Linked DNA regions of Homo sapiens: region 2 is linked to region 1. Evidence: fine-mapped expression QTL. A gene starts in region 1. The other region holds a variant in brackets. All regions are shown on one strand. Distances are between the middles of the regions.

Region 1 (2,922 bases):
AAACAACGTCTCCCCAACACTTCACAGTATAGGCTCTGAGTTTCATAACGGCACAGAGTGGATACTGTAAGAATGCAGTGAGACTCTCCCTACTCCATGCTCCTTTCTTCCATCTTTTGTTCCACAGATGTCAGCCCTACATCAGTCTGCAGGCTGCTCCTGTCTGCTCCAAATCCCTCCCCCAGTAAGTTTCTTGCACATCTAATCCCATCTTAGCATCTGCTTCTTGGTAGACACTAACAAATTATTATAAGGAATTACTTTGCACTACCATATTTATACAAAAAGTAGTTAGTTCATGCATTTAGAATATTGGTTTGTTGGTTGACAATGTTAAGCCTAATGACCTATACCTTTTGGGTACTGACATACTTAATTTTGCACTTATTAAACTGTGACTTTCCAAAAAAAAAAAAAACTTTCATTGTACCATTAGGATATAATATTCTTGTTAATATTACAAAAACCAAACCAAAACAAAAACCATGCTGCAGCCTTAGGAGAACTTGCTTCATGTAACTAAGGGTTTTTCTTTTTCTTTTCTTTTTGTATTTTTTTTTCCTGTAGGATAACATAGTGTTAAAAGCACAAGCTTCTGGACTACTTGAAATCAAACCACAGCTTAACCAGCTCTATGGCTTTTGGCAAATTACTTCAACTCTTTAAACCTGTTTCTGATCTGTAAAATGGAATGATCCTTGCTCATCTGTAATATATACATTTATAAAACAGGACCCACCAATGGGATTATTTTATGAATTAAATGTTAAAACAGCTAGAACGGTGCAGGCTGAGTAAGCACTGAACACAGTACTTATTAGCTATTATCTCTGGTGCTCTGTGCAACGAAAGAACTATTAGAATACATTTAAAAGCACTTTGCAAACTAGAAAGCCCTTTGAACAATTTAGTTTCTCTAAATGTAATAATAAGCATCAGCCATCGCCTTTTATGGAAAATTGAGGTGGAATCACATCAGCAAGAGAAAACTGAGGACTTGTCTCTGGCTCTGTTCCTGATTTATTCACACAGTACATGATCCTAGAATAAGACTCCTGATACTCCTGAAAGTAGAGGCGGTTGGGTTAAAAATAATTTTCCCTTTCAAAACTCTTTCAAATGTTCTCCAAAAGAAGCCAGGAAAGCTCCCGTATGAGTAGATAATTCACTTTAAAATTCGCTCATCTCTCTTTAACACGAGAGTCTGCAGGGCTGGTGCAGCGGCGTCAACCCGAAGAGACCTGAACGCCGATGGGCAGTTGGGATTCTCCGTACGCCTCGGAAACAGCAGCCCAAACCTCACAACGCAGAACCACGAGATAGTGGGGATTGCAGAGCCCTGCGCAAGAGAAGGAAAATTAAGACGCAGCGGAGCCCAGGAGGTGCCCGCACGCGGGAAGGACTGGCGTGCAGACGAGGCAGGGGGAGGTTTGCACTCGGCGTGGCGCGGGTGAGCCGCGTGCTCTCGGGCACCCGGCCGCCAGTTCGGATGCTTCCGATCCTCGGGGAGCCGGGGCGCTGCGCCGGAGTCACTTCAGCCCATGTTGTTCAGGTGACACCCGGGGAAGAGCAGACTCCAGTGTGCAAAACGTTTCGGGGTTTCCGGGCCAGCGGTTCCGGGCGCGCCTCGCGGGCGGCGGCGCAGAACTACAACCCCCAGGCTCCCTGGCGTGGCGGCACGTGGGCCCGAGCCGGGCGGCCGCGGATATAAAGCGCGGCGGCGGCTGCCGGGCGGAGCGGCTGCACGGACAAGAGCGGAGGCCTGGGTGAGCGCGGCCCGCGACGGCACGGGCTAGGACAGACGGACGCAGACGGCCCGACGACCTGGGCGTTCGGGCGGAGGGGCGCTGGGGCCTGACTCGCGGGTGGGTGAGACGTTGACGGACCCGGAGGAAAGAGGGAAGGCAGATACGCTGGGAAACGGATCTGGGGAAGGTGTGAATGCGAAAAGTGTAGGGACAGACGGGGGCAGAAGAACTTACTCCCCCGGATTGTTTGCAGACAGCATATCTGCCGGGTCTCCAAAGGTCCTTTCCTCAAAATAGAGTTAGCAATTGAGCAGAAGAGAGCTTAAAGTTAAACCTGATACATCCCCCCTTCACTTGAGGAGAAATTGGTGGTTTTCTGCTTTTTTAAAAATCCCTATTTGTATCTCCTCTTCTCCGAGTACCTGTCCCTCAAGATATTCTCTGCCCAGAGGTACATTCTGCCCTCACTTTCTGTCTCTTAAAAAAACAACTTTGCCATTTAAAAAAGAATTTGACTTAGGCAGCTTTAATTCTTTGCACTGAGTGTTCTTATCTGTGGATGGAGGTATAAGATTTCAAGAGTAATACCCCCTCCCAATGTTTCAGTAATAATCTAAATTCACATTAAGCCTTAGGCTGGAGAACATTTGAGCTATTCGCTTTAGCTACGAGCTCTGAAAACTTCAAAGCATAACATTCCCAAGTTTATCTAAAACTTGAATCTTAAAAATAATGATAATTATCTGTTATGCTTCAAAGCATAACATTCCCAAGTTTATTAAAAACTTGAATCTTAAAAATACTGATCATTCTCTGTTAAAGTCTTTTGTTGTTGTTGTTGTTGTTGTTGTTGTTGTTGTTGTTGTTGTTTTTGAGACGGAGTCTCGCTCTTGTCGCCCAGGCCGGACTGCAGTGGCGCTATCTCGGCTCACTGCAAGCTCCACCTCCCAGGTTCACGCCATTCTCCTGCCTCAGCCTCCCGAGTAGCTGGGACTACAGGCTCCCGCCACCACGCCCGGCTAATTTTGTATTTTTAGTAGAGACGGGGTTTGGCCATGTTGGCCAGGCTGGTCTCGAACTCCTGACCTCAGGTGATCCGCCCACCTCGGCCTCCCAAAGTGCTGGGATTACAGGCTTGAGCCACCGCGCCCGGCCAAAGTCGTTTTTATCCCAT
Region 2 (2,922 bases), 370 kb after region 1:
TCCAGCCTGGACAACAAGAGCAAAAACTCCGTCTCAAAGAAAAAGAAAAAAAAGTTGGCCGGGCGTGGTGGCTCACGCCTCTAATCCCAGCACTTTGGGAGGCCAAGGCAGGTGGATCACGAGGTCAGGAGTTCCAGACCAGCCTGGCCAAGATGGTGAAACACTGTTTCTACTAAAAATACAAAAATTAACCGGGTGCAGTGGCAGGCACCTGTAATCCCAGCTACTCGGGAGGCTGAGGGAGGAGAATTGCTTGAACCCAGAGGTTGCAAGTTGCAGTGAGCAGAGATTGCGCCACTGCACTCTAGCCTAGGCGACAGAGTGAGACTCCATCTCAAACAAAAACAAAAACAAGTTAAAATTTATTTCAATTTACACGCACAAACACAGGCTGTATGTGGTGCCATTTACAGTCAAGAGAAGCATAAACAAACATAAAGATGCAGTATTAAATCATAACTGCATAAAATTTACCCCAGTACATACTGTACTACTGTAATAATTTTATTGCCACCTCCTGTTGCTCTTGCTGTGAGCACAAGTGTTGTGAGTGTCTGCTTAAAACACCCTATGACACTAATCATCTCCACATGAACTGTTCATCTCTTCAGTAAATTGTGTATCACAGAAAAAAGTGATCTCTTGCACTTCCCACATCTTTGTCATCATGTTTAGTGTAATACCATAAACCTTAAATAATGCCATTGGACCCATATGAACTGCCACTAATGATACTGGAAGTGCTCCCAAGAAGCAAAGAAAAGTCATGATGTTACAAGAGAAAGTTGAATTGCTTGACATGTACTGTAGATCGAAGTCTGCAGCTGTAGTTGCTACCATTTCAGATAGATGATTCATCTTATAAACAGATTATGTAAATTTATGGTATTCATAAATACAGTACAGTATTATAAATGTGCTTTTTCTTCCTTAGGATTTTCTTAATAATGTTTTATTTTTCTCTAGCGTACTCTATTGTAATCATAGAGGATATGTAACATACAAAATGTGTTAATTCACTGTTTATGTTATCATTCAGGATTTCAGTCAATAGTAGGCTATTAGTAGTTAAGTTTGGAGGGAGTCA[A/G]AAGTTAAATGCAAATTTTTGGCTGCATGGGGGTCAGCACCCCTAACTCCTGCATTGTTTAAGGGTCAGCCATATTTGCTTTTTTGGTATTGAGTTGTTTGAGTTCCTTGTAATTTCTGAATATTAACCCCTTGTCAGATGCATATTTTTCAAAGTTTTCCTCCCATTCTGTAGGTTGTCTCTTCAATCTGCTAATTATTTCCTTTTGCTGGGAGTATCTTTTTTTTTTTTTTTTTTTTTTTTTTTTTTTTTTTTTTTTTTTTTTTTTTGAGACAGAGTCTCGCTCTGTCGCCCAGGCTGGAGTGCAGTGGTGCGATCTCAGCTCACTGCAATCTCCGCCTGCTGGGAGTATCTTTAGACTGGCTCCTGTGATCCTCTGATACATCCCCGTCATTCTTTGAGTGTTGTTTTACTTTCGGTATATCAAGACATTTCAGGCTAATCTTGTACCTTCCTTGCCTTAGTCCTGGAATCAGCTGTTTCGACAAGAAGCAAACATAGGTTTCTTTAATTCTCAAAATGCCATTGACCAAGAGCAACAAAAATAACAAAAAATAGGTTGCTCAAATGGATGTAAAACTCTCAAAAGTGATGCTGAAATGTTAAGCAAATAGCTCATTAGACTAATTGGCTTTAGGGGACATGGCCTTTTCTTTCCCTATAGATGATTGCTTTTTAAAAATGCATTATCAACAAATACTTTTGGAACACCTATGGCTCTTGTAGCCTACCCTACTGGTACCTATGGGTTTTACACTGTGACAAAGACAATTTTTTTCTATTTCATGAAACAAGACAAGAAGGCAGCAAAAAATAAAACATGAAAAACAGTAGAGTAGTCACCCCCTTATCCACAAGGGATATGTTCCAAGACCCACAGTGGATGCCTGAAACCATAGATAGTACCAAACACTATTATATACTATATTTGCAATTTGCTGAGATGGCTACTTCGTGACAAAGGGGCAGGGTAGCATATACGATGTGGGTATACTATACGAGGGGATGATGCATGTACTGGGTGGGACGAAGCAGGATGGCACGAGATTTTATCACGCTACTCAGAACAACACACAACTTAAAATGAATTATTTACTTCTGGAATTTTCCATGTAATATTTTTGTAGCATGATTGTCTGCAAGTTAACTGAAACCACAGAAAGCAAGCCCATGGATAAGTGGAGACTACTGTATACCAAAAATAGAGGAAAATGTATTTTCATAAAATAGAAATACATGAGCATGTTAATTTAAAAATGCACAGGGAAATATATCTATATTTATGTCTATCTAATCAATGTGTATATAATGAATGTTCAAGACTGTTCATTATGAGAAGTCTTTCAAGGACAAATTGTATTTGTATGAAAGGGTATATTTTTAGCTGTGTTGGAGAGAATATAATCTAGAAAATGAGCTTGGGGACATTGATCCAGATATGAAAATGCATGGACAGAGATTCAGTGATATGCCACTGAGAAGTTGAGTTTTTCTGGTTTTCCTCTCATCCATTCCTCTCTGTGTATTGATGTCCTGGAGACCAAGCCCTGTGGTCTGTATTCCCAGAGAGAACTCATGCTCCCTATGCTCATTGTCCATGTTCTAGTTTTTGGCTGATCATGTTGGCCACTCTTGTAATGTGATGTTGTTCTCATAAAACCAGTGACGGCCAGGCACAGTGGCTCATGCCTGTAATCCCAGCACTTTGGGAGGCCAGGGCAGGTGGATCACCTGAGGTCAGGAGTTTGAGACCAGCCTGGCCAACATGGTGAAACCCCATCTCTACTAAAAATACAAAAAATTGGCCAGGCGTGGTGGCGGGCGCCTGTAGTCCC

What was found.
Region 2: its variant is fine-mapped to the expression of NPL in whole blood (TOPMed, PIP above 0.99).

What each region holds. Positions count from the first base shown.
Region 1 is chr1:182,788,040-182,790,961 of GRCh38, forward strand. It overlaps NPL (N-acetylneuraminate pyruvate lyase), which reads left to right and starts at 1,734. Exons shown (of 13, transcript NM_030769.3): 1 at 1,734-1,766. RefSeq lists an enhancer at 1,387-1,887.
Region 2 is chr1:183,155,320-183,158,241 of GRCh38, forward strand. No RefSeq gene overlaps it. Among named protein-coding and RNA genes, the nearest start is that of LAMC1-AS1, 16 kb to the left of the region's middle. The variant A/G (reference allele first, on the strand shown) is at 1,088.